7 linked regions of the Homo sapiens genome follow. The protein of the gene in region 2 interacts with the protein of the main gene of each other region in a pairwise test. Each region holds a gene or a part of one and is shown on either strand. Other genes may lie near its edges. The genes, in order: POMZP3, NMI, SOX10, GCSH, MTMR6, ERN1 and CNOT7.

Region 1 (4,209 bases), on a different chromosome or scaffold from region 2:
TGAGAACCAGGATAACAGCAGTCAGAGTCAGGGACACCACCACAGCCAGGCCTACGCCCAGCAGCACCACTGAGGTGTCAGAAGGCAAAGCCCACTGCTCTACTTCATGGTCACCCCTCCTGTCCAGGAAGATCAGTGGCCCCACGGTGACATCTGCTTCTTCTGTCACTGTGAAAGGAGAACACACAACCAAGGGTCATCTTAGTCCCTAACCGGGAACTGGGTTGGAGGTTTTATTCTGCCTCAGTGGGCTAAACTAATATGTTGTCTTTTTTGTGTGGGCTAATAAACAGTTTCTAGACAAAAAAACACAGCTTTCTCGGCCAGGTGTGATGGCTTATGCCTGTAATCCCAGCACTTTTTGGGAGGCTGAGGCAGGCAGATCACCTGAGGTCAGGTGTTTGAGACCAGCCTGGCCAACACGGCAAGACCCGTCTCTACTGAAAATAAAAAAGTTAACTGGGCATGGTGGCACATGCCTGTAGTCTCAGCTACTTGGGAGGCTGAGGCAGGAGAATAGCTTGAACCTGGGAGGCAGAGGTTTCAGTGAGCAGAGATCGTGCCATTGCTCTCCAGCCTGGAGGACAGAGCTAGACACCATCTTGGTGCAGGGGAGGGGGAAGAAAAAAGAAAAAGACAGCTTTCTCATACGGAGAAAGCAGGTCACCCAAGAGGGATTCCCTAGTACATCATCTTTTTTGTAGAGACAGGGTCTTGCTATGTTGCCCAGGCTGGTCGAGAACTCATGGGGCTCAAGCGATTTCCCTGGCCTCAGCCTCCCCAAGTGCTAGGATTATAGGCACAACCCACTGTTCTGGCCAGATTATTATTATTTTTTTTTTTTGAGAGACAGTTTTACTCTTGTTGCCCAGGCTGGAGTACAATGGTGCAATCTCGGCTCACTGCAACCTCTGCCTCCCAGATTCAAGTGATTCTCCTGCCTCAGCCTCCCAAGTAGCTGGGATTACAGGCATGTACCACCACGCCCAGCTAATTTTTTATTTTTAGTAGAGATGGGGTTTCTCCATGTTGGTCAGGCTGGTCTCGAACTCCTGACCTCAGGTGACCTGCCCGCCTTGGCCTCCCAAAGTGTTGGGATTACAGGCCTGAGCCACTATGCCAAGCCAGATTATCTTAACAACTGCTATATTTCCCCTACATGCCTAATTATGTCTCAGTAGAAGCCTAGGATGACAGCAGATCTACCCTGGCTGCCACCGAGGTGGAAGGCTGAGAGCCCCCTCCTGCTTAACCCCAAGATTTGTGTTAGGGAAAGGTAGCTGCAGGCCTAGGTACAAACAGTTTTAATGGATGACAAGGGAAAATACCATCACCCTGAAATGACAGCAGGTACCCTCAACTGAGTAAGGGACAATGAACAGCCTCTTGGCCATTCTATGACATACCATGCCTGCGGTTACAGGGAAGCAGACGTGGACCACTGGCTCACGACACGAGGCTGCCTCCTGGAATGGCTTGGAGTGCCACAGTCACCTTTGTTACAGCATTGACAGATGTCAGCCAGGCCTTCCACTGGGAACCAGCTGAGATGAAAGAGAAGCAGCTTAGATTTTTGTTGCCTGCAGGAAGCAGTTTGCTGATAATATATTGGGGGAAATAGACAAGGGGTCGCCGATTCAGTTTCTACTCCAGTCACGGAGCACCTGTCCTCACCTGTTGGAAGGCTTGCTGAAGGAACAGGCCTTGTTGAGTTCATCTGGGTCCTGCTCAGCTAGGGTGACCTTCAGGTGGCAGGTGATGTATATCTGCAAGGAATAACAGCTATTTCCAGGCCGAGTTCCAGGCTGTGCCTGGGAGTTTAACACACCAGTTCTCTTATAACCCTCAACCCTTTAAAGAGTGAGAAGGGGCCGGGTGCGATGGCACACACCTATAATCCCAGCACTTTGGGAGGCCAAGGCGGGTATATCACCTGAGGTCAGGAGTTCGAGACCAACCTGGCCAACATGGTGAAACCCCATCGCTACTAAAAATACAAAGTTAGCTGGGCGTGGTGGTGGGTACCTGTAGTCCCAGCTACCTGGAAGGCTGAGGCAGGAGAATCACTGGAACCTGGGAGGCAGAAGTTGCAGTGAGCCGAGATCATGCCACTGCACCCCAGCCTGGCTGACAGAGTGAGACTGTCTCATAAAATAAACAGGGGGAAGGAAGAGCCTCATCTCTAAGATGGTGTAAAGGTTCACTTACCCAATGTTAGAGCAAGTAGCAACTAGTTTTAGACTGGAATCCACCACTTATTCCCCTGATCTTTTCCAAACTTACCCAATCATTGAACATGCTTGACCCTGGGCTTCTGAGACAGGGCCTGTCACCCAGGCTGGAGTACAGTGGTATGATGATGCCTCACTATAGCCTTGACCTCCTGGGCTCAAGGGATCCTCCCACCTCAGCCTCATGAGCAGCTGGAATTACGGGTACAAGCCACTACACCTGGCTAATTTTGGATTTTTTGCAGAGATGAGGTTTTGCCATGTTGCCCAAGCTGGCCTCAAACTCCTGGGCTCAAGTGATCTGTCCGCCTCAGCCTCCCAAAGTACTGGGATTACAGGTGCCAGCTATCCGTGCCTGGCCAGTCCTGGGCTTAACTCAGCATTGCTAAACCCGCGCCCATCCCCAGGTGACCGAGGTGAGTGGTAGACACCTTAATAGCTAGCAGCTTAGCTGGGTTTCTGACGCTGCCACCTGCCACTTGACTAGTTGACAAGCTACTTTTCTTCAGGGATGTAGTCACTGTATTGCCAGCTAAGGCAAGACCAAGTTGTTTCTGGGACCTGAGGTCCTTGGGCACATAAAGAAGCCTTTTGGACTTGCTTCTGTGGAGTTTCCATTTCAGACTTAAGAGGTTTTTTTTTTGTTTTTTTTTTTTGAGGTGGAGTCTTGCTGTTGCCTAGGCTGGAGTGCAATGGCACGATCTCAGCTCACTGCAACCTCTGCCTCCTAGGTTCAAGCAATTCTCCTGCCTCAGCCTCCCAAGTAGCTGGGATTACAGGCACTTGCCATAATGCCTCGCTAATTTTTTTGTATTTTTAGTAGAGACAGGGTTTCACCATCTTGGCCAGGCTGGTCTTGAACTCCTGACCTTGTGATCCACCTGCCTTGGCCTCCCAAAGTGCTGGGATTACAGGCGTGAGCCACTGCGCCCGGCCAGACTTGAGTTTGATGGCTCACTCTTTGGGCAAGCTTCCCTGGGCTTTTCTTCCTTGCACATACCTCTGCTATTAGTCAAGCCTACGTCAGTCTCCCTTCACCTGTAAGGGATATGACGACCAGAAGACTCACCAGGCTGATACCCTGACAGTCCTGGCCTCTGGGAAACGTTTACCCACCCTCGTTAGACAAGTACGAGGGAATGAACCCAATATGAGCTCCTGCTGGGAGCTGAAGGACCCCCCCCACCCAGGGAATAGTCAACTACCCTGTAAGCACTGCCCCCCTACCCTTTTTTTTTTTTTTTTTTCTGAGACGGAGTCTGTCTCTAGTCCAGGCTGGAGTACACTGTAGCCACTACCTCCGAGGTTTAAGCGATTCTCTTGCCTCAGCCTCCCAAGTAGATGGGATTATGGGTACCCACCACCACACCAGGCTAGTTTTTGTATTTGTAGTAGAGATGGGGTTTCCCCATGTTGGCCAGGCTTGTCTTGAACTCCTGGCCTCAAGTGATCCACCTGCCTTGGCCTCACAAAGTGCTGGGATTATTGGCATGAGCCACCGTACCTGGCCAAGCCTTCTCATTTTAGACTGACATTCCATCCTGCTGCTGGGGCTAGGGGCCATTCTGACAGAGCCAGGGCTCAGTCTAGCCTTGGCCCGTCCCCAGGTCAGTTTCCCTTCATATTTCAGGCAGGGCTAAAATTCCTCCCTGCTCAACCTCGGGCAGAGCATGGCAATTCTGCCACCTTGCAGCAGAAGCCTCAGAGCCACAAGCCTCAGTCACCACCTAGTGGCCGAGTACACCAGCAGAGAAACTTGAAACCATGTAAATTCAGACTTTTAGAAACAAGCCAGTTTAGCAGTTGTCCAGCTGCCCATCTTAGCCACCTGCCCTGCAAGTAAGAAGCTTCCAAGGCCCTGTTGTCTATTCCACAAAGGAAATGTACTTTCATCCTTAGCTTCTTCCTAGTATGTTTTTCTGGTGCTAACTGGAGTCTAAGATCCCAGGGCAGTTCCCCTATAGCGGCCTTTTAGAAG
Region 2 (4,209 bases):
TTGAGCAACTGAAAAATAATTCAGGAAGGAAGTATTAATTTCCAATATTTTAAGAATTGTTATGCTTTTGGTTTAAGAACAAATTATCCTGAATATTTTTAATTTTCTTTAATATTAAAGGGTCTAATTTTAAAAATTTGGCGGGCGGTGATTCCAAGTGATAATGGTCTTGCTACCAAAGTAGAATATATAATTTGGGGGGTCAGGGGGAAGGAGGACCAGATCTCATTCTGTCACTGAAGCTGGAATGCAGTGATGTGATCATAGCTCACTGTAACCTCAAACTCCTGGGCTCAAGAGATCCTCCCACCTCAGCTTCCAGAATAGCTATGATTACAGGTGCATGCCACCACGCCTAGCTAATTTTTTTAACTTTTTGTAGAGACGAGCTCTCACTTTGTTACCCAGGCTGCTCTGGAACTCCTGGACTCAAGCAATCCTCCTGCATCGGACTCCCAGACAAAGTTCTGGTATTATCAGGATGAGCCACTGCTCTTGGTCCCAAAGTAGAATATATTAATGTCAAAGTATATCAGCAAAATCACAATGTAGAAGTTCTCAAGTTCTAGATTCTTCTCATAAGATGAATCTTTTCTCTTATCTCTTAAGAGATAAGCCTAACAATCTTCCAGAATTCATATATTACTTCAGCTCAGCCACATACCCTTCCTTCCACTATTAACAATTACCAGAGGATTCCCCTAGTACATTAATGCACAGCCAGAAAGTGTCCCATGTTCAGTAAGCTGGGAAAACTTTCATGGCTAAGTGTCATTTGTACAATTAGTCTTGATTTTACTTAACCTTATCATTTGTTACTCCTTAATATGTTACAAGCACTAGAGCAATATATATTCATTTGCTCTGTCTTCTCAAGGATTACATGTTAAAGACTACATAGGCTGGAACATCAAAGAGTGAGTCTTTTTTTTGGTCATACTTAATGACGAATTCCACTTTTGCAAAAATGCTCTTGAAATCATTCTTTAAAAAGTTGATAGTCCTGCTATATTGATCACAAAGCTGTCAAGTCTAATTTACCTGTGCAAATGGGAGAGGTTTAGTAAAATGCTAAAAATCACTAGCACTCCAAAAGGCAACTCTATGTCAATTAAAAATGTGAGTGGGCATTTATTTTTAATTGTGTGGCATGAGTTTATAATACTGCAGTTGTTGATATTTGGGGCTGCTATTCCAATGTATCATGAAAATAAGTGACATTCACTCTCTGTCTTATAAAACTTCACATGTGTTTATGACAACCAGACCAGATGGCACCACACCACAGCTGGAGGAAGAGAAAAAAGGGCCAGAAGGCAGGGCCTTGGCCATGTGGGAATTCAACTCACTGTACCAAAATATGACTCTATAACTTGGATGATGGTTTTTTGTTTTTTTGTGTTTTTGTGTTTTTTTGCTAATGACAACAGACAATAACAGAAAATATCAATGAGTAATACTCAGATGATCCTCTTTCCCTCCCACTCTTCCACAAACCCCCAACATCTGGTGATCTGATACAGCTGAGAGGGACCGCTTGTGTCTCAATTGTTGTGACTCTGACAATCAAGAGCCAACTCCTACTTAATTGTGTTTCAAACCTACTGCTGTCCCAGGAGATTGGGAGCTCAGAGCCACGTCAAGCGTAGAAGCAATGATGTAGGTGCTTTTAGAGAATTCCATTTCCAACATTCCCAGGAAATTGCTGTGCAGAAATCCTGCCTCCCAAATCCTCATTTATATCTATCTTTTAGTTATATCCCGATTACCAGTCGCCAGTATGAGTCCTGGACTCCTCTTCTACCTGTAGCAGTAGCTCCAGGGTGAAGGAAAACACACTGGCGATGCATGTCTTCTACGCACAGATACTGTCCTGCTGGAATGCCTTTCAACATTTATTTTCAGGCTACAGTGGTGCACCAGTTTTGAGGAAACATGGGTTATAGACTGTCAGAATATGAGCACTGGAAGGGCTGGGAACACCATCTGGTCCCTCACCACATAACTTAAATAAAAGAACAAAGGCCTGGGCTGGTGGCCTACCGAGAGAAATATTGGCCCAGTGGAAGTACATGGACTCTCAGGGTTTGGCTCTAAGCTCTGCAACTAACCGTATAGACTTTAAGCAAGTTAATTATCTTCTTTAAGCTTCTGTATCCTTATCTGAAAAATTTCTAACATGTAGCAAAAACTAACATCCATTAAGTTTGTATTAAGTGTCCAACATTGTGCTAAGTATTTTATCAACATTTCTCATTTAATACTCAAAGCAGCCTCATGAAGTAGGTACTACCATGAAGCACCTGTATAAAACCCTGAGGTTTATAAAGAACCTATCCCAAATCATGCTTCTAGGAAGGGACAAGGCTGGCACTCAAAGCCAGATCCTCCCCACTCAGGAACCCCCAGCTCTGAACAGGGGCCCTCACCATGGCAGACTTAGCAAACATTAGGTTTCATTCCAAATCTCTAGCTCCCAGGCTCTTCTCATTCGTTGGCTATGTTCCCTTAGGTAAATCACTTAAACATCCTCAGAATCTGTTTTCTTGGCTCTGGCATGTCTATATTTAAAGTACACAATAATAACTATCCTATCCTCCTATATTTATGGAATTGTGTGAGTATAAAATGTGATAATGTCTCTGAGAACTGTACAGCTCTACTACCTTGAAATATTACTATCATTATTTGGAGGTAGCATGTGGAGTAGAAAGAGGCTGGTATTGGACATCATCATAGCACCTGGATTAAGTCCCACAGTCATGGCTTTCTGAATACAAGATCATATTCAAGGCACTTGTCTCAGAGTCAGTTTTCTCATCTGTAAAATGGGAATAATCATACCTGCCTCAGAACGTCACTATGAGGATAAGAAATAATATAAGTGAAGTAATATTAGCGAAGTAATAGCTAAATGTCTATGAAAGTGCTTTCCAAATAACATGGTCATATTTTTTAACATTAGTCATACCTTCTTCTTTTTCAAAGGTGATAAGTGCTTGTCCTTTTTGTATCTCATAAGGAACTTTCGAGCTCACTTGAAACGAACAGGAGATATTTGACAACTGGCTGTCATTCTCAGGAGTTTCAACTGATAAGAATTTCATCTTTGTTTCAGGAATATCCTCTTTAATCTAATCCAAATGAAAATGTTTGATTAAAATCAAGACGAGAAATAACTTAAGTCCTTCCAATGATAATGTAATTTGGTCATCCAATAATTCATTCCCCACTAATTTTAGAACCTTGTAGAATATTGAGTATGGTCTTATTTAACATTTTTAGTAATTGCTTTTTCCCATGTAAGTACTCAGTAATCAAATGCTGATCTTTTAATATCATTTCACAGATGAAATTAAAAATATATAATCCTCTCACTTTTTTCTAATCAATGTTTAAACTGTCAATATTGTATGGTGTTCAGTTCTAAAGCCTACATCATTCATGTGAATAAGGACTTTTTAAACAAGTGCCAATAATAGACTATCTCAAAAGGAAATCATTAGATAGTATGTTTAATTTTGCTGCAAAGTATGAAATATAGTGTTGGGTATAATATGGTATTTCAAATCCAGATAATTTCATCCAAAAAGAAAGACTCTAGAATTAGATAATTTTATTTATTTATTTATTTATTTTGAGACAGAGTCTCACTCTGTTGCCAGGCTGGAGTACAGTGGTGTGATCTCGGCTCACTGCAACCTCCACCTCCCGGGTTCAAACAATTCTCCTGCCTCAGTCTCCCGCGTAGCTGGAACTACAGGCATGCGCTACCACACCGAGCTAATTTCTGTATTTTGTATTTTTAGCAAAGACAGGGTTTCACCACGTTGGCCAGGATGGTCTCTTGACCTCATGATCTGCCTGCCTTGGTCTCCCAAAGCGCTGGGATTACAGGCGTGAGCCACCACACCTGGCCCAGAATTAGATGATGTTAAATTTATCAAATTTAAAAATTCCACCTTCCCCAACACCTGCCCATCAACTTTTTAACCATTACCACAACTTAGGTTTATAAAAAATGAGAAGGGACAGTATCAACAGAAATTGTAAGCTGAGGCTACACAGGTGGCTCACACTCGTAATCCCAGCACTTTGGGAGGCCAAAGCAGGCAGATCACCTGAGGTCAGGAGTTTGAGACCAGCCTGGCCAACATGGTAAAACCCATCTCTACTAAAAATACAAAAATTAGCTGGGCGTGGTGGCAA
Region 3 (4,209 bases), on a different chromosome or scaffold from region 2:
CCGGGTGGTCTTTCTTGTGCTGCATACGGAGCCGCTCAGCCTCCTCGATGAAGGGGCGCTTGTCACTTTCGTTCAGCAGCCTGGGGTGTGGTGGGAGGCGGAGAGGACAGCAGAGGGGCTGGCGTGAATGCCAGAGCACTCCAGGTTGGCCTCCCTCTGAGTGTCCATCTTGGAAGATGTGAGGCCCTGGGATGGGGCACCCAGAGGACAGGACCCGGGGTGGGGGCTGTGCCCTATGATTTGTGGACTGAGAGATGTGAGGCCCAAGGAATAACAGCCTCAGAGGGCTGCCCCCAAATCTTTCATGGGCTGGAGGGTGAGAGAGGGGTCAGCCCGCTGCTCCTGGCAGCCCCTGAGGAGGAGTTAGAAGTAGGAGTAGAGGTTTCAAGGGGCAGATGCCAGTTCAAGGAAAGGAAAAACTTTCTCATCATCAAAGCTGTCTGCAAGTGGAATTGGCTACTTCAGTGGGGGTGAGCTCCCTGGGACTGAGGGTGGGCAATAGAAGCAGCATGGCTGGGGGAGAACTCAGTCTCTGCTACTTACTAGCTGTGTGTGTGACCTTGAGCAAATTACTTCTCTGAGCCTGAGTTTCTTCACCTATAAAAGGATGATAACATTGGCTTAACTTGGGTGTGGGATTGGCCAGAATAATGGATGTGAGATGCCTTGCACCAGGGCCTGGGAAGCGGGCTGAGCACCTTGAGGAAGAGGTGCTTTTCTTTCTTTCTTTTTTTTTTCTGTGAGGGAATCTCACTCTGTCACCCATGCTAGAGCTCAGTGGTATGATCTCAGCTCACTGCAACCTCTGCCTCCCAGGTTCAAGTGATTCTTGTGCCTCAGCCTCCCAAGTAGCTGGGATTACAAGCATGCGCCACCACGCCCGGTTAATTTTTGTATTTTTAGTAGAGATGGGGTTTCACCATGTTGACCAGGCTGGTCTCCAACTCCTGACCTTAGTTGATCCGCCTGCCTTGGCCTTCCAAAGTGCTGGGATTACAGGCATGAGCCATTGTGCCCAGCCCAAGAGGTACTTTTCTATTTTTAATTTTTTATTTATTTAGAGACAGAGTCTCACTCTGTCGCCCAGGCTGGAGTGCCGTGATGCGGTCTCAGCTCACTGCAATCTCGGCTTCCTGAGTTCAAGCGATTCTCCTGCCTCAGCCTCCCGGGTAGCTGGGACTACAGGCACGCACCACCATGCCTGGCTAATTTTTGTATTTTTAGTAGAGACGAGGTTTCACCATATTGGCCAGGCTGGTCTCCAACTCCTGACCTCAGGTGATCCACCCGCCTTGGCCTCCCAAAGTGCTGAGATTATAGGCATGAGCCACCGTGCCCGGCCCCAAGAGGTGCTTTTCTAATGCTGCTTGCGGGGGTGGTTGGACAGGAGGATCTAGGGTTGGACTCTTAACTCTGGGTCCTGATTGTGTGAATTCCAGTGTGGTGGGACTGAGGGGGCAGATGTGGCTCCTCTTTACCATGGGTCTGGGTGGGGGGTACTGCCTCCTGTGGGGGATCCTATATCCTTGTCCAGAAAATAGCAGAGAGTAGAGGAAGCTAGCCTCTCCTCAGACCCTGGAACAGTCCCTGAAACCAACACATGGAGAGAAGAAGCCCTGAAGCCAGCGCCCTTGCCACCGACTCCAGCCTTAGGCCAGGGTTGGAGGGTGGAGGGCATTTAGGGTTTGGCTGCCCCAGGGTGAGGAGGGCAGGATGGGGTACCTTACAGAGGGGGTCGAGGGGAAAGTCCAGATTCTAGAATCCCAGACCTTGGTACTGAGAATCCATGAGTCTTTGTGGGAGCAGCCTTGTCTGTCAGTCCAGAGGGCTTGTCTCTTCAGCTGCCCCACCCCTCACACCCCAGTGAGTGCCCTCTTCCCCCAGTCAGCAGAAGGCCGAGCCCTCCCTCCCCAGGCTGGGCGGGGGTGGTCATGCCAGGCACCTCCTAGCCGGCAGCAGCATTCCTCTGCGGCTTAGCCTCCCTGTCTACTCCCCCCACCCCGGCCCTGAGCCCAGCCCTAGCCCCAGCTTTCTCAGAGGGTCCCTCCAGCCGAGACTCTGTCAGAGTCAGTGTACACACTTAGGACAAAGATGCCGGAGCAGGGCCTTGAGAGTCAGGGAGTGGGATGTGGGCACCCTCTCTGACGGCTGGGACCAGGGGAGGGGGTGGAGCAGGCCTTGAGGGTGTGACTGGGGAGAACCCACAGAGGAGAGAGCTGCTCCGCCAGCAGTGGACCCCAACAGAGGGGCTTCTGGGATGGCTGGGGACATGGGACACAGAGCTCACTCTTTCACCTATCCTTCCCTTGCCCCCTGCCCAGCTGGCAGCCAGCATCAGCAAGAAAGTGACAGGGGCCAGAAGAGAGAGAGGATTCCAACATCGGATTCCGCTGCTACCTCCTAAGCTAGTTCCCAGCATTAGCCTAACCCTGACAGAAATCTAAGCCTGGGGCCACTGCCATCCCCGACCCCAGCTCCCTCCTCCACCAGCTGTGCCGGACAGCTGATTCCACCTCCACCCCAACCCCAAGCCCAGCCTGCCCACCATGTAAACCCAATCTCCAGCACCAGTCCCCACTCAACATTACCAGCCCCAAACCCCCAACTTCGCCTCCAGCTCTAACTCCAAACCCAGTCCTCATCTGCACCTTCCTGTCAGCCCTCTTTCTCCCTGGTCTCCCAGGTTTGGAATGGGGGCAAGAAGAGGTAGGCTGATTCCTCACCCAAACTGGAAACCCCAACCGGGGACCTCCCACAGTGGGGCACTGATTGCTGCTACCTGTGTCCTGCTAGGCCAGGGGCATAAGAAGACTACTTGGGGAAGGGGCCTGTGGCACTGGGAACAGAGGCTGGGTGACCCCCACCACACAGGAGGGACTCTTGCCTGTGTCCGCCTTTCCAGTTTCTTGGCTCTGGTTCTTTCCAGGCAGATCAGCCAACCCACAGGCACCACCCTGTGATCAGCCTCAACTAGCCCCTCCCCAGATGGGCATCAAAGGTTAGAATGACTGTTGGGGCTGACACGGCCCCTTAGGACCTGGGCTCCAGTGTGTCTGATCCCACACTCCCTTGGGGCACTCCACACAGTCTGTGTGTATCTTTCTCTTTTTGGTTTTAAGACACCTGTTTTCCAGCTCTGCCTACCTAACCACCCCACTTCTTGACATCCCAGGAGTCACAGCTTGGGGAGGTTTCAGGAGAAGCCCCTGGAGCAATTGGCCAGCCCAGCCCAAATCCAAATGTCTCTCAGGACCCCCCTCCAGGGTCCAGGGAGCCACCCTCTGTTGGCATTGCCTTTGATCCTTGCCATGGTTCTGGCCCCATCCTCCCATTGGGATTGGGTCCTCAGCAAGTAGTGCCAGTTTTCCTGACTGCCACACCTCAGGCTGGCCCCTGTGCACACAGCTTGAGTGATGGCCAAGAATAAGTCCTCCTGAAGGGAGTCCAAGCCCAGGGTTCTGGGCTGGGGGAACCTGGGGACAGGGACAATGGAGGAGCCAATCTTAAACCCTTGGCAATGGGAGATGGAGGGAAAATGAGGTCCGTCCTTGCTTTGACTCTCGTTGGGCTCGTACTGTGGTCTTCTCATGGTCCCCAGAGTCTGCCCTATCTGTATGTCTCTCCTGGTTGTCTGTTTCTCACTTGCTCTTTGTCCCCTGGCACTAAAGATACTGGCCTGGGCCAAGCCCCACCCAGATCTGGATGGACCTTGGGTGGAGGAGCTAGCTGTGACCTCTGCTCTTGGGCAGAACTGGGCTGTCTGGGTCCACACAGCGGGCTGGTCGCTGAGCCCTGGGCCTGCCCTGGGTGAGCAGGGCACTGAGGGCTGAGAAGGGGCAGGGGAAGGGGCACCAGGTCTTCAGCAAACACATGGCAAGAACAGGCCAGGGGGCGGGATGTGAATCTTTTGGTCTCTTGGAGATCCTCCTGCACCTTCTACCACTCTAAGCCTCTAGACCCAATCTCTACCCAACTGTGGCTGGCAAGGGGGAGGGCAGCGGAAGAGAGCCGGGCTCCTCTGACAAAGCCCTAATTTTCTGGAACCCAGATGCTCCTCACTCTTGTTCTCATCTTCTTGCTTCCCCCCAACCTCCTGACCACTCCTCAAAGTGTAGGTGATCCACCACTGTCACCAGGGTCAGGGGAAGTCCTCTGGACAGAGAGTATGGGAGTCCTGGGTTCTGGCCCTGGCTCTGCTACCAACTTCTA
Region 4 (3,184 bases), on a different chromosome or scaffold from region 2:
AAAATAAGTCCTTAAATATATGATCCAAATACACAAGACCAGGTATGTCTTTAACAAATGGAACACTAACTACTGAGGTTAACGGGATTAGAAAGCAGTAGTAATTAGAAGGGCTAGGTGACAGACAAAAGAGAACTACAACCTAATCCTAGCTTTGCCATTTATCAGCCATGAGACCCTGACAGATAAATCCTTTGGAGCCTCTATTCATCTACAAAATAGAGAAAATTGCTGTTAGCTTACCTGATTAGATTATAAGGGTGAAAATGTGAGAAAACCAAAAATTAATGCAAAATATATATTTTTTTACCTCCCATGTCACACAATATGAGTGGCTGCTTTATGTCTGAAAAAGTAAATACTTTGCAGATGTTTACACCAAAACCAAAGAATCTACAACTGATATCAAGAAACTGCAAAATAAGGTAATGCTTTTATCATCAGAGATTTTTTTTTCTTTTTTTGAGAAGGTCTCGCTCTGTCACTCAGGCTGGAGTGGAGTGGTGCGATCTTGGCTCACTATAGACTGCAGCCTTGACCTCCCAGGTTCAAGCAATTCTCCCACCTCAGCCTCCCTAGTAACTGAGACTACAGGCACATTCCACCACAGCCAGCTAATTTTTGTATTTCTATAGAGACAGAGTTTCACCATGTTGCCCAGGCTGGTCTCCAACTCCTGGACTAAAGCAATCCACCCACCTTGGCCTCCCAAAGTGCTGGGATCACAGGCGCGAGCCACTGCGCCTAGCCAGAAATCTTAAACATAACTTTAAGTATTCAACTAACCTCTGTTTTTCTTTTAAAGCAGAACATCTCTATTTAGTACCAAGAAGTAGAAAAAGATGAAGTCACAATCAGCTAAACTTGCTTTAAATTCTAGATAAAATATTTACTGTAGTAGTAATTCCTTGAGAAATTTCTAGCAACAGCTTACCATCTTCATAACAAGATTTGTTTACAAGTCCTGGATTTTCTGCAAGAGCTTCATTAATTTCAGTTACTTCTCCTGATAAAGGAGAATAGAGTTCACTAGCAGCTTTCACACTTTCCAAAGCACCAAACTCATCTAAGTGGAAAAAAAATTAAAGAAAACATGAAATGTTAAAAGTCAGTTACTTGAAAACATAAAATACGAAAAAGTAGATTCCTGTCATACAGCTATGATTTTAAAATTCCAAATTTCTTTTTTTTTTTTTTTTGAGATGGAGTCTCGCTCTGTTGCCCAGGCTGGAGTGCAGTGGCGCAATCTCACGTCACTGCAAGCTCCACCTCCCAAGGGTTCATGCCATTCTCCTGCCTCAGCCTCCCGAGTAGCTGGGACTACAGGCGCCCACCTGCCACCACGCCCGTCTAATTTTTTGTATTTGTAGTAGAGACGGGGTTTCACTGTGTTAGCTAGGATGGTCTCAATCTCCTGATGCCGTGATCCGCCCGCCTCGGCCTCCCAAAGTGCTGGGATTATAGGCATAAGCCACTGCACCTGGCTCTTTTTTTTTTTTTTTTTTGAGACGGAGTCTCGCTCTGTCACCAGGCTACAGTACAATGGTGTGTTCTAGGCTCACTGCCACCTCTGCCTCCCGGGTTCAAGCCATTCTCCTGCCTCAGCCTCCCAAGTAGCTAGGATTACAGGCGCGCACCACCACGCCCAGCTAATTTTTGTATTTTTAGTAGAGACAGCGTTTCACTGTGTTGGCCAAGCTGGTCTTGAACTCCTGACCTCGTGATCAACCCGCCTCAGCCTCCCAAAGTGCTGGGATTATAACCGTGAGCCACCGTGCCTGGCCTACATTTCTTTAATTAAAAATAAAACCATAAGTTTTGTCAGGCTATAATAACCACGAGAAGGGTATATATTGTCTCAATAAAGTGGACCTATCTGTGTGTCCTGGACACAGTAAATAACAAATGGTGATGTGCCTGAATGCCAGATGTGTGTAGGTTCAGTAAAACTCCATGTTCTTGCAACTTAGCTGTGGCTCAGAAAAAAACAAAATGAAAACTTTAGAATGTTCCAGTGACAGTGAAGTACCCTGTATCAGATAACAATTATAAGCTCTGGGCCAGGCGTGGTGGCTCATGCCTGTAATTCCAGCACTTTGGAAGACCAAGGCAGGAAGATCACCTGAGGTCAGTAGTTTGAAACCAGCCTAGCCAACATGGTCTCTACTAAAATACAAAAAAATTAGCCGGGCGTGGTGGTGGGCGCCTATAATCCCAGCTACTTGGGAGACTGAGGCAGGAGAATCACTTGAACCCGGGAGGTGGAGGTTGCAGTGAGCCGAGACCATGCCATTGCAGTCCAGCCTTGGTGACAGTGTGAGACTCCGTCTCAAAAACAAAAAAAACGGCCGGGCGCGGTGGCTCACGCCTGTAATCCCAGCACTTTGGGAGGCCGAGGCGGGTGGATCATGAGGTCAGGAGATCGAGACCATCCTGGCTAACAAGGTGAAACCCCGTCTCTACTAAAAATACAAAAAATTAGCCGGGCGCGGTGGCGGGCGCCTGTAGTCCCAGCTACTCGGGAGGCTGAGGCAGGAGAATGGCGTGAACCCGGGAAGCGGAGCTTGCAGTGAGCCGAGATTGCGCCACTGCAGTCCGCAGTCCGGCCTGGGCGACAGAGCGAGACTCCGTCTCAAAAAAAAAAAAAAAAAAAAAAAAAAAAAAAAAAAAAAAAAAAAAAAAAAAAAAACAAAAAAAACACAATTATGAACTCTGAACTACTGGCCAGGAACGGCGGCTCATGCTTGTAATCCCAACACTTTGGGAAGCCAAGGCGGGTAGATCACTTGAGGTCACGAGTTCAAGACCAGCCTGGCCAACATGGTGAAACCCCGCCTCTACCAAAACCTCGAAATAAATAAATTAATTAATTTAAAAAATTAGCCTGGTGTGGTTGTGCATGCCTGTACTCCCAGCTACTTGGGTGGCTGAAAAAGGAGAATTGCTTGAACCTAGGAGGCGGAGGTTGCAGTGAGCCAATGTCGCACCATCGCATTCCAGCCTGGGCAACAGAGCAAGACTCCGTCTCAAAAAAATAAGAAGAAAAAAAAAAGAACAGTTTAAAAAAGGCTGAAAAGTTAACAGTCTTAGGGACCCTATAGGACAATATCAAGTGATATGACGAACATGTCTCAAATCAGAGAAGGAAAAAGGAATGAAGTGGGAAGAGAAAGAAATCATGACT
Region 5 (4,209 bases), on a different chromosome or scaffold from region 2:
CTTCTATTTAAAACACCTGCATTAGTAAGTGTAATAACATATTAGGCATGTTTTATATCTGAAGATAAAATTTCTAGTTGAATAGATTTTCTCCTTTGTGAAGATAAAGACCTAGTTCCTTTTTTTTGTTTCTTTGCTTTTAAAGGTATGATCAGATTTTTATTTGCTTGCTTTTAAACGTGTGAGCAGATTAACTTATGTTTTCAAAATTTACATCTTAACTCATGGTAAATTAAATGAAGAGATGTTAGAAAATTTTCATTAGTCTTGAATTATTAAATACAGTGCCATCTTAAAGCAAAGGAAGATTTAAAATCACCAGTCCCTTTTCAGCACCGCTATTTTTTGCTGCTAACATACCGACTCTGGGACAGGCCAAGCGGGAGTGCTGCTAATAAGAAAATAATGCTCAGCTTACCTTGAGAGTGTACGATAAGGAATATTTTCTTTGCCATGTTTGGCTTTAATTATTTGTTAGACATCCAAATGAAATCATGTAATAAATGGGGATGATGTGAGAGCTTCCCAGGCAATAGGAACAGTGTAAATCAAAGCATAACCTCTTTGGGTGACTGCAGGTAATGTGTGATGGATGGAGTTCAGAGTGAGTATTAGAATAGGGGGCTTGGAGGCAGAGGAATAGAGTGGGGTCAGGGCCTGAGAAAGAGAAGGCTGGAATGGGGCTTTCCCCTCTTTGGATAATGGGAGCTATTAAAGAGTTTTAAACAAGCAAACAGTAACTTGATTAGATGTGCTTTTTAAAAAGGTGGCTTGGTATCTTGAAGGCCAAAGGGAGTGGGAATGGAGGCTAGGAGGCGAGTGTAGACACTATTATGATAACTTATGAGACAAAAGTTTTTAATTTTACCAAACTAAAATAGTAACACACAAGTGAAGGGGGAGGTGATGGGTTCCAGGGATGTTTAGAGAGTAGAGTCAGTGGCTGGGCGCAGTGGCTCACGCCTGTAATCCCAGCACTTTGGGAGGCCAAGGCGGGTGGATCATGAGGTCAGGAATTCGAGACCAGCCTGGCCAATATGGTGAAACCCTGTCTCTGCTAAAAATACAAAAATTAGCCGGGCATGGTGATGTGTACCTATAATCCCAGCTACTCAGGAGGCTGAGGCAGAAGAATTACTTGAACCCAGGAGGCGGAGGTTGCAGTGAGCCAAGATTGCGCCACTGCACTCCAGCCTGGGCAACAGAGTGAGACCCTGTCTCAAAAAAAAAAGAAAGTAGAGTCAGGAAGAATTGATCATGGATTGGATGTGGGATAGAAGAGAGGAGTCTTCCTCTGGGATGATTTCCAAGTTTCTGAATTAGGTGCCAGGATGGATGGTGCTGCTCTCTGGCTCTTCACTGAGATAAGCCAAAGAATACATTTAGTGAGAAAGATATTGAGTTATGCTTTAAACATGGTTTTGTAGAAGAATGGCAGAGAGACCAGAATAAAATCTGTGGCTCCAGCCACAAGGTCACACAAAGTGGTGAAGCTGGGATTGGAGCCTGTGCCTGAGCTCCAGCGACTACATCCTCAGCCACATCAGTGTATAGCCTTCTGCGGAAAGCAGAGGCTTGAGACAAAATCAGAGAAGCTAAAACCAGCAGTTTTGACACTATGAAAATAATGTGCTTGGTGACTGTATAGTTAAGTGATAAAGTGTACTAAATACTACAAATATGTGTTTAGATTAGACTGAAAAAGTTAGAAATCTGTTTTTACAGTGGAGTGGGTAAGTAGAGAAGCTGTGGCAAGGAAAACATAAAGTCAGTCCATTCAAGAGGATAGATGTTAACACTTGGATCTGAACATGAACTCAAGTAAGATGATTTGATTAAAATAATTGGTCTTTTTATCATTAGTTTTTTTTTCTTAAAAAAAGTAGTATATAAATAATATAAAAAATGTACAAGTAAGCCAAAAGTTTTAAAATATCCACCTCAGTCTACCACCTAGAGTTATCCTTTGTTAGCAGTTTTGGTTTACATTTTTCTAGCCTTTTTCCTATGATATATCATCTTCATACATACAAAAACTTAAATGTAATACTGCTTTATAACATGTACTTTTCACTTAAAATGTAATAAATTCAACGGAAATAATTTAAGTCACGAAACTACTCTATTTCTTTTTATGCATTTTTATTCTTCTTTAACCCCACCTCGAATCAAGGTTTTGGCATTCTTTTGCCTGTGGTTTTTTGTGCTGTTTTGTTTATAAGTTAAAAGTGTACAGTAAATACTGTTTTTAAACTAATAAGATTTAATCCAGCCTAAACAAAATAATTGAAAGTAGTCAGAAAGTGAATTTTACTTTTTCTCATTAAGGTTTTAATAGAAAAGGATTGGATCTCTTTTGGACATAAATTTTCAGAGAGGTGAGTCACAGTTACACAGTCATATATTTTATAAAATTAGTAAACCAAGTTTAGAATGCCAAAATGTTTCTGTTCCTTATGAACTCACATGCGTGATGGGAGGTAAGAGTGTCATGGTTTTTACTGTATTTTACGTAAAGACATTTAATTTTTTTCTGTAATTTCTTTCAATTCTAGTACGCTTGTTAATTTTCATGACTATTTATTACCTTCCTTTTGGGCTGCATTTTATTTAGAGATGGTAACAGATCCTTTAAAGCTGTGGTTTAAAAACTCATAAATGGTTTCAATAAAAATTCTAGTTTTGCATGCTAATGTAACAGTGCTTTAGGAATATTTTTGTATGTTTAAGATTAACAATACCTGAACAATGGACCTTTCAGAGGTGTTTTTAAAAGCTTATACTTTCTGTGGGGTTAGGTGTGGCCAGTTGGATGGTGACCCAAAGGAAGTCTCACCAGTGTTTACTCAGTTCTTGGAATGTGTGTGGCATTTGACCGAACAGTTTCCACAAGCCTTTGAATTCAGTGAAGCATTTCTTCTTCAGATCCATGAGCATATTCATTCATGCCAGTTTGGAAACTTCCTTGGAAATTGTCAGAAGGAAAGAGAAGAGCTCAAGTAAGATGATTCAATTAAAAGAGTCTCCTTTTCCCCCTACTTAGCCGAGGTCTAACAAAAATCATGTTTGAAACTTAATAAAATATCTTGACAATTTGAAAGTTTATTGTAAAGATTTTATTTTTTGTATTTCTAAAGCTGAGTACCCTTCTAATATTCCCCCACCTTTCAGCTAATAGTAAAAGCACATTATAAAATGTGTTTTGAAGTGTAGCATACATACAGAAAAGTACATAGAGCGTTAAGTGTGAAGCTCAGTAAATCTTACCAAACTCACACACCTATGTAACCAGCACCCAGAATATGAAATGTTGTCAACACCCTGGAAAGTCTCCTCATGCTTCTTTTCGGTCTGCATTTATATATTTTAGAACAGAGAAATCCTTATGCTGTTTAATTTCCCAGAATGTATCAGTCGCTAGTTTTAAAGTGTAAAATATTTTAAACTGTTGGTTTGTTTTAAGATAGGATGGAGCCTTATAGCTCTCCCCACATTTCTAAACAGACAGTTCTTTGGGGAAAATAAATCTAGCTATGTTGGCTGCAGCGTGTCCGTCCTTGAGTAGGGTCTCAGAAAAGCCCTGAGACACTACTTGACCCTAGTTCATGTTATTTCCTGACCAGTCTTCGGGGATAGGGGTTTTTGCCTAAATTTTGCTGTAAGGAAGATCTCTGGAGTAGGTCTTAGAGGTCCTATGTATATTGTTTTAGGTTGGGCTTCTGAGTTTGGATTTCTTTATTGCCTCTTACAGTAGGCAATAAAGAGCACTTAACAGACTTTTGAACATCCAAGGGACATATTAAGGAAGCTAAATCTGGTAGTATTTGAAGATAGCCACATGCTCACACTCCCAACAGAGTAAACAGCAGAACTGAGAGCATGTGGAAAATTCTAAAAATGCGTAAAGGGAATAAAAAGTGAATAGAGAATGGTGGAGATGAACAATCAAAGAACATTGAGGCTTTAGCTCTATGTTACAGTGATTCAAAATAGTTTATTATAATTTGGAGCACAGAGGTAACTCTTTTCCTGGAGTACAGAGCTATTTTAGGAAAAACTATTCTTAATTAGTGCCAAACATTCTCAAAAATGGAAAGATGGAAGTAAAAGTAGATATTTCCTAGTAGTTTTTCTCCAAGACACACCTATGGGTCATCTTAGGAGTTATGGAAAAATCAGGAGATTTTCCACTTTCCCCCTGGATACCTA
Region 6 (4,209 bases), on a different chromosome or scaffold from region 2:
ACATTGGTATTATTAAGCACTTGAGGCTGTCTTTTGTTAATCCAGAATGTGCTTATTTAGTCAGTGAGTTTTTCCTTTCTTCCTAGACCTATATCTTGCTCCTAGAGTTGGTTAGGGTTACATCATCACTGTCAGCAGTCCTCATTTTATGGTTATTTAGGTGCCACATCTCTCAATTACCAAAGAGATCAGTACAATGTGAGGCAAAGTACCTTTTTTTTTAAAAGCTATAAGATATCAGATTTCTTTCATTTAGCCAATATTTTGGTTTTAGAGGGAGGTTTTTAAAAAGTCACCGAGAACTGAGGATCATGTGTGTATAGAAACACTGTAATCTGATAGATGAGTCTTAACTAGCAATGTCTTTGCTTATCATTTATTCTGACAGTGATCACCTGCATTAATTATCCTAATAGGCGATATCAAGTGTTTATACTGAGGCCATAAGTAGAATGTTCATTGAGTTTGTTATCAGGGCTGCTGATCATGAAATTAAACTGTAGTTGTGCACATGTGTATTGTTTCATTAACTTGCCTGCCTATTCAGCCTTCTGCAGTAATGTAGCTTCTCAGAGCACAGGAGAAAAATGTATCTGAGAGTTATTCGAGAGAGAGTTCAACAATAGCCCATATTTCCGAACATAAATCTAGTGAGCCGCATTAAAGTTTCTTCATGTCTGGATGGAATAGTGTCACTTGCATAGGTCTGAGGGTTTCATTATTTGCCTGCCCCAGATTTGGACTCCGTTTTTCAGGTGAAAGAATCCTTGGATAACTGTTTCATTTTCATAGGAAACCTCTTTGGTTTCGGGATCCAAAGTAATATGTAGGTTCAATATTTTGTAGGTTTTATAATCAAATGTCTCCCTAAAGAGATGACATAGGGAAGAAAAGCCTAATGTATCATCTTAATGGATTCAGTTTTTATTATGCACAAATAACTGGGCTTGTAACCTAGGAATATGATTAGAGCGTGATGCTGGCTTAAAAAATAGGACTGGTGAATCACAGTTTGTGAATAATAAACTACTGGTTGGAAATATTTCCCAGAAGCAGTTTTTTTTTTCCTTTCTATCTTTACCTATATCCCATGTTTGGTTTCAAACTTCCCTGCCTTAGAGCAACACAGCTGGTTTTAGACAGTCTTTCTATCAATATCTTATAATCTTTGCTCATGTACAAACATACAGCAAATACAACGGTATAAAAATACGATGTTATCTATTTTTGTTCACTTTTTCCCCACAGAACATCTTCTGTAACCCGGTAGAAAATGTTCTGAGTACACCATCACATTTGTCACTTTAGTAGCACCTTAGTAAACCATCATCCATGTAAAAAAACATTGAGCTTCTCAGCCGGGCTTGGTGGTTTGCGCCTGTAATCCCAGCACTTTAGGAGGCCAAGGCGGGTGAATCACTTGAGGTCAGGCGTTCGAGAGCAGCCTGGCCAACATGGCAAAACTCCGTCTGTACTAAAAATACAAAAATTAGCTGGGCAAGGTGGCATGCACCTGTAATCCCAGCTACTCGGGAGGCCGAGGCAGGAGAATCGCTTGAACCTGGGAGGTAGAGGTTGCAGTGAGCTGAGATCACACCACTGCACTGCAGCCTTGGCAACAGAGCGAGACTCTGTCTCAAAAAGAAAAACAAAAAACAAAAAACATTGAGCTTCTGTGCCCAGCCGTGGGTTGGGGACTGGGGTTATAACTGATCAGGGTTGATGTGGTAATAAGCCGAGCTTTGCCTGCCAGTCATCTTGCTGTGGCCATAGGGATCATAAAGAAAGGGGTATTTTCATTTTTTCAATTATTTTATGTTTGGTGCTTTCTGTATGATAACAGGGGAAGATATTTTTTTTTGAGGCATTATCTCAAAGTAATCATATTCATTGTAGAAAAGTTAGAAAGGATAGATAAGCCTAAATTAAAAAATAAAAAACAAGCCTTCTATTATCTTATTTTCCAAACATTACCTCTATGAAGATTTTAAACAATTTTATTGAGATATAATTCACCTATCATCACAATTCACCCATTTAAAGTGTACAATTCGGTGGGTTTTAGTATATTGACAGAATTCTGCAGTCATCACCACAGTCCATTTTAGAACATTTTCATCATCCCAGAAATAAACTTCATACCTATTAGCTGTTACACACCGTTTCCCCCCAAACCTCCTAGTCCTTGGCAACCACAAATCTACTTTCTGTCTATAAATTTGCCTATTCTGGACCTCTTATATAAATGGAATCATACATTATGTGGTCTTTTGTAACTGGCCTCTTTAACTTAGCATCATGTTCTCAAGGTTCATCCATGTTGTATAATAACATGTGTCAGTACTTTGTTCCTTTTTATTGCTGAATAATATTCCATTATATGAATATACCACATTTTATTTATCCATTGTATTAGTCCATTTTCATGCTGCTGATAAAGACATACCCGAGACTGGGCAATTTACAAAAGAAGTAGGTTTAATGGACTTACAGTTCCACGTGGCTGGGGAGGCCTCACAATCATGAAAAAAGGTAAGGAGGAGCAAGTCACATCTTACGTTGATGGCAGCAGGGAAAGAGAGAGCTTGTGCAGGGAGCTTCCCATTTTTAATACCATCAAATCTCGTGAGACTTATTCACTATCACAAGAACAGCACGGGAAAGACCCATCCCCATGATTCAGTTGTCTCCCACGGGGTCCCTCCAACAGCACATGGGAATAGTGGGAGCTACAAGATGAGATTTGGGTGGGGACACAGAGCCAAACCATATCATCCATCCATTGAGGGACATTTGGATTGTTTCTGCTTTGGGACTATTAATAATTCTGCCATGAACATTTGTGTACAAATTTTTGCGTGGACATTTATTTTCACTCTTCTTGGGCATATATCTAGGAAAGAGATTGTTGGGTCATATGGTAACTCTTTGTTTAACCTTTCAAGGAACTGTCTGACTGTTTTCCAAGGCAGCTGCACTATTTTACATTCCCACCTGCAATGTAGGAAGGAGGGTTACAGTGTCTCTTATACCCTCACTGATACTCGTTATTACCTATCTTTTTAATCTTAGCCATCCTGGTGGATGTGGAGTGGTAACTCATTATAGCTTTGATTTGCATTTCTCTAATAACTAATCTAATATCTTGACATATGTTCTTTCAGATGCTTTTTCTGTGCACATATTTACAGGTAATACTTTTCTTCCCCACACTGGAACATATAGATCTATGTCAATCAGCTTAATTCTGCAACATTATTCTTAATTGGCTGCGTAGTATTTCTCTGAATGGAATGGATGTACCATAATTTGACCACTCAATCATTTAGATATTGAGGCTGTTTTTATTTTTTTTTATTTTTTCACTACACAGATATGTTTTTATTTTCATTATAAAAATTATAACAATGTAATGAACTTTCTTGTTGCTAAACTCTTGAATGAGTTTTAAGTGCTTAGTTATTTCCTGGAGATAGATTCCTAGAATTGAAATTTGCTGATTGTATGTAGTATTTTACAGCCCTCTCCCCCAGCCCTAAGCAATGTTGAGTGTTTTAAAAACAAAACTAACCTTAAATTGTTTTTATGATAGGCGGTTTAAAGTATGCTATTTTCTTTTATCAGTGGCCACTTTCTTTTAGGAGCGTAGACTTTAAAAGTTGGATGAAAATAGAATGTTTACATTTTGTTTATATTTTGAAGATGTAAATAAACCAAGGCAGTCTCTGGATGATACCCTTTGTACCTAAAAGCTATTGAGAAAATGTTTTATTTGGATTTGTTAAATGACTCATTTGTGGGGTCCTTTAGTTTGCAGTGGTTTCAGATCAACTTTCTAGGAGATGTGGCACCCATGAGCACCCTGAAATACCTCGGGATAATTCTCTGGTTTTGAGGGTGGCCCGCCTCCTACAGATAAGATTCTTTGTATGGTCGGTTGTGAGGCCATTTAAAACTTTTGCCTTAAGACTTCATAAATCAGAGTTGATACATTGATTGTCCCTTTTGGAGGCTGCAGTTCTTAAAACATGTGGCTGTTTTTCCTAGGAATATTTAAGTACCACTTGATAATAAAGTACTACCTTTTGCTGGGATTATCTACCTGGAAAAAAAAAGGGAACAAAAAATTAAAAATAAAATGTAATATCTGTGGTGTTTTATTTTTTGTTTTGTTTTGCTTTTCCTGCAAATTTATTCTTCCAAAAAAAA
Region 7 (4,209 bases), on a different chromosome or scaffold from region 2:
TCAATTTTGATCTTTCTTCCAAATTTCCAAGATTCTCTTCACGGTGCTCTCTCTATATTAGGCATTACTCGTTTATCTTCCAAATGACTTCTTCTACCTAATGTTTTTCACTGTATCCTTCTCCTTAAACATCTCCTAACATCAGTGTAAATCAAGCTTGTCCAACCTGCAGCCAGTGGGCCACATGTGGCCCGGCATGGCTGTGAATGTAGCCCAATACAAATTTGTCAACTTTCTTAAAACATTTTGAGATTTTTTTTTTTTTTAGCTCAACAGCTATTGTTAGCATTAGTGTATTTTATGTGTGGCCCAAGACAATTCTTCCTCTAGTGTGGCCCAGGGAAACCAAAAGATTAGACACCCCTAGTGTAAATGGTAGCAAAACTTGGTAGTAAACTTTAGCAGTCATTTTTGAGTAAGAAAGAAAAAATGTCACTTACAGGCTGTACTAAGAAAGCAGTTGTTACTCGAACAAAGGTGTTTCTAGAAAAGGAAACTGTCAATTTTATCCAAACTGAGAAGCTGATGGGTTACCTCCTTCTCACGTACTGAGATCACAATAGTATCTAATTTAAAAACAATGTTCTAATTCACTTGAACAAAAAGTTAACATGGAACAAATGAAATGGTAAAGCACTAATTTTAATAAAGGTTTATCATTTGAGAAAAAGGATAGGAGGCAATTTTCAGTGTTTCACAGATGTAGTTCTTATAAAAGGTTTTCAGTTTGAGTGGAGTACTTTGCACCCTTTATAAATGAGGTGTTCAATCTTTTGGCTTCCTTGGGCCATACTCAAAGAACTGTCTTGGGCCACACATTAAATAAACTAACTTAAACAACAACAAAAAAATCTCATAATGTTTTAAGAAAGTTTACGAATTTCTGTTGGGCTGCATTCAAAGCCATCCTGGGCCAAGGGTTGGACAAGTTTACTTTACAAGGTTCTGTAGACTGTGCGTGTGTGTATAGATACAGGTATTTTTAGAGACAAAGTATCACTCTGTTGCCCAGGCTGGAGTGCAGTGGTGCAATCTAGATCACTATAGCCTTGAACACCTCAGTTAAAGCAATCCACTTGGTTCAGCCTCCCTGTACCTGTAGTGCTAGCTACCTGTACCTGTACCTGTAGTGCTAGGACTACAGGTACACAGCCACCATGCCTGGCTTAGTTTCATTTTTTTTTTTTTTTTTTGTAGAGACAGAGTCTATGTTGACCAGGCTGGTCTAGAACTCCTGGCCTCAAGCAATCCTCCTGCCTTGGTCTCCAAATGGAGAGTATATTATTAAACCCAAAAGAGTGAAATGGAGAGTCAGGCTAAACACAGTGTAATTACAAGCCACACTACTATACCACAGGCATCATTACTCTGCTTTTCCTAAGCCCTACTTTCGTAAAATTGTGTATACTAAATATCTTTGTTTATCTGACAAAGAACAGGAAGAAAGAATTCATACATTGGCACTACCATTAATTGCCTACAGTTTCTTTCACTATTTTACCTACCAGATATTAGGATGTATGACACAAATGTAGGATGTCAAACAGAAGAACAATGCAATATTGCAACATACAGTTAAGTACTCACTCAACGTTATCAATAAGTTCTTGGAAATTGCAACTTTAAGCCAAAAGATGGATAACGAAACCAATTTTTACCACAGGCTAATTGATAAAAACAAGAGTTAAGTTCCTACGGCATATTTCTGGTCACAAAAAAATCATCAAACTTCTAGATAAAGACCAAAATACTTCTAATATTAAACAATGAAATAAATGTGAGCTATATGTAAATTTAAGAACAATTAATAAAAACAAGATAATTATTTGCTCCATTATTCAGTTGAGGGGTGAAGAAAGCCAGAGCCTATTCTGGCAGCTCAGGGCACAATGTGGGAACCAACCCTGGTCAGCATGTCGTTCCGTGGCACAGTGCACTCACACAGATACACCTACTCACTCACACTGGGACAACTTAGCCACACCATTTCACCTAACGTGCACAGCCTTGGGATGTGGGAGGAAATCAGAGGACCCGGGAGAAAATCCACATATACACGAGAACGTGCACACTCCACTCAGGTAGTGGCCCGGGTCAGGAATCAATTTTATTTTTTATGAAGGTTACCATGAAACAATGTTGAAGAAAATGTCATTTGAGGTCCTGCTGTAATAAGAATGTATTATTTTATTTACCCAACTTAGTTTGCAAATAATCTGCCCCTCTCTAAAAACATCTAAAACTTCCCTTAGCTATCAAGACTACTTCTATTAATAATACAGAAATATTATAACTAAGGAAACTGGGTGAAGACCCAGGGCTTGAGTTAGAATGAAGATTCTGACATATGATAAACACCAGGTTCAAGGATACTACTACTTCTCCTATATGTAAATTAAGAGAGCTTTTGTGGGCTGAAGTGGCAACCTAATGATAATACTGACTTGAAAGGAAAACGTACCCAAGGTTCCAGAAAACGTCTTACTGCATTTGACATGTAATCTACTCATAAACTGGAATATGAATGCAACAAAAATCTTCACAAGAAGGATAAATATTATAAAAGGCTATATTTCAAATTGCACACAAAATTTTTGAAAGTAAAACTAATGTAGGATTATTTTTTCTATCAGAAGTACTTTCAATACCCAGTCTTCCAAATACAAAAAAAGCTGCAGTCATATTTTAAATATAACATCTTTAACATCAAAGTATTTTTTTTGGTCCCATAGTAAAAAAGAAAACCACGCTTTTGAAATGTTACGTTTTATATATTTCCAGGATAACTACACCAAATTCACCTAGCATGTCACCATACTTGAGGAAAATCAATTCCTAAGATTAAAGAAAAAAAAAAAAAAGTCTGGGTTATACAGTTATTTCCCACTTACGTCAAATTAAATTTAAAATTAAACTGCCAAGTTGAAGTTCCTGGAGGGTATTCTCCTTGCTCATTCATAAATGTCAGTCCTAGCTGAATTATCTTTAACAAGTCTACATTACACCGCAATAGTTGGTATTGATAGTCAGCATTGCTCCTGAATTCTCCAATGGGTCTTGCAACCACACCTGGAAACTCGGTGTCCTGTAAAATAGTTTTAAGATTCATTATGTACTAAACAGTCAAAACTACAATCCACACATTTTTAATTTTTGATGCAAATCAAAGAATCCTACAGATGATATTCTACACATTTATATTCAATTACAAAGTATATTTTAACTAGAAAGAACATCACTTTTTAGAACCATAAAACTCTATAAACTTAATAACCTTTCCTTAAATATATCCAAAAAGTTACTATACGAGATACATGTGATAAATTTAACCAAATACTTACTCTATAACCAAGAAAGGGGGGAAAATCATAAATTCCTGTCTCCCAAAGGATACATGAAATGATGCTCACAGTATTCCAATGCTAAAACCAAGTTTCTTGAAGAACTGGTTCAAAAGAGGGGAAAACGCCCTGTACTTTCCAATTGCTTCTCTGACACAAGGTTTTTCTCAACACCAAAACCCTAAGAAAAACATCATTAGCTTCCTAATTTCTCTGGCTTAAACAATATTCTCTCTATAGTCCACAGAAAGCATGCTGTCAAGAATTGCATGCCACCTACTCACTCTTGTAGGATGTTATCACTTCTCTATGTTGCCACTCTTTATCATCTGAGAAATCAATGATCACTATGAATTTCCATTGGTTAAGAAAACAATTTTAGTTCTAATCATGGGTAAGTACACCTTTATCAAATAGTATGTCATCTACAAAGAAACAGTCATATTTTAACCAATCAACTTGCTCCTCCCCAAAGTAATGCATTTGTTTATTTTTATTAAAAATACTGAGACAAAGATACATCGGTTTAGTATTAGAATTCAAACTAGGGCTAGCTAAGAATAAAAACTACCTATCAAGTCACTATGAAATAGTAAAGAAATCAATATTTCTCTAAATTCAGTGCAATTCAACAGCCACTTTATTGAATACTATATGTGTTATGCTAGGTGTTGGGAGAGAAAGGATTAAAACACTTGGTTTATGGAGCTAATAATAATCCAGTGGATGTAGAAAACAGTAGGGTAGCTAACAGATATAGACAGTATAATGGTAAAGAAGAAAAATCATTAACTGGATAGACAATCTAGGCAGACCAAACAGCACGTGCAAAAGCAGAGTTGCTTAGTAACACAGTATATTCACAGAA

Evidence for each region.
Region 1: the proteins of NMI (region 2) and POMZP3 interact in a two-hybrid assay, tested with the Homo sapiens proteins (2 studies listed by BioGRID and IntAct).
Region 3: the proteins of NMI (region 2) and SOX10 interact in a two-hybrid assay, tested with the Homo sapiens proteins (one study listed by BioGRID).
Region 4: the proteins of NMI (region 2) and GCSH interact in binary tests that used the Homo sapiens proteins (3 or more experiments, as listed by UniProt).
Region 5: the proteins of NMI (region 2) and MTMR6 interact in binary tests that used the Homo sapiens proteins (3 or more experiments, as listed by UniProt).
Region 6: the proteins of NMI (region 2) and ERN1 interact in a protein complementation assay, tested with the Homo sapiens proteins (one study listed by BioGRID).
Region 7: the proteins of NMI (region 2) and CNOT7 interact in a two-hybrid assay, tested with the Homo sapiens proteins (one large-scale study listed by BioGRID).

What each region holds. Positions count from the first base shown.
Region 1 is NC_000007.14:76,610,048-76,614,256, forward strand, and holds part of POMZP3 (POM121 and ZP3 fusion protein), read right to left. Parts: intron 1,767-4,209; coding exon 1,675-1,766; intron 1,545-1,674; coding exon 1,418-1,544; 3' UTR 1,407-1,417; intron 169-1,406; coding exon of another isoform or gene 166-168; 3' UTR 1-165.
Region 2 is NC_000002.12:151,275,857-151,280,065, forward strand, and holds part of NMI (N-myc-interactor), read right to left. Parts: intron 3,135-4,209; coding exon 2,972-3,134; intron 9-2,971; coding exon 1-8. UniProt on the Homo sapiens protein: Acts as a signaling pathway regulator involved in innate immune system response.
Region 3 is NC_000022.11:37,978,056-37,982,264, forward strand, and holds part of SOX10 (transcription factor SOX-10), read right to left. Parts: intron 81-4,209; coding exon 1-80. UniProt on the Homo sapiens protein: Transcription factor that plays a central role in developing and mature glia.
Region 4 is NC_000016.10:81,083,529-81,086,712, forward strand, and holds part of GCSH (glycine cleavage system H protein, mitochondrial precursor), read right to left. Parts: intron 1,067-3,184; coding exon 935-1,066; intron 1-934. UniProt on the Homo sapiens protein: The glycine cleavage system catalyzes the degradation of glycine. The H protein (GCSH) shuttles the methylamine group of glycine from the P protein (GLDC) to the T protein (GCST).
Region 5 is NC_000013.11:25,252,554-25,256,762, reverse strand, and holds part of MTMR6 (phosphatidylinositol-3,5-bisphosphate 3-phosphatase MTMR6), read left to right. Parts: intron 1-1,690; coding exon of another isoform or gene 1,691-1,741; exon of another isoform or gene 1,742-2,314; intron 2,315-2,328; coding exon 2,329-2,378; intron 2,379-2,798; coding exon 2,799-2,999; intron 3,000-4,209. UniProt on the Homo sapiens protein: Lipid phosphatase that specifically dephosphorylates the D-3 position of phosphatidylinositol 3-phosphate and phosphatidylinositol 3,5-bisphosphate, generating phosphatidylinositol and phosphatidylinositol 5-phosphate.
Region 6 is NC_000017.11:64,122,936-64,127,144, reverse strand, and holds part of ERN1 (serine/threonine-protein kinase/endoribonuclease IRE1 precursor), read left to right. Parts: intron 1-4,209. UniProt on the Homo sapiens protein: Serine/threonine-protein kinase and endoribonuclease that acts as a key sensor for the endoplasmic reticulum unfolded protein response (UPR).
Region 7 is NC_000008.11:17,240,101-17,244,309, forward strand, and holds part of CNOT7 (CCR4-NOT transcription complex subunit 7), read right to left. Parts: intron 3,523-4,209; exon of another isoform or gene 3,342-3,522; intron 3,086-3,341; coding exon 2,892-3,085; intron 1-2,891. UniProt on the Homo sapiens protein: Has 3'-5' poly(A) exoribonuclease activity for synthetic poly(A) RNA substrate. Its function seems to be partially redundant with that of CNOT8.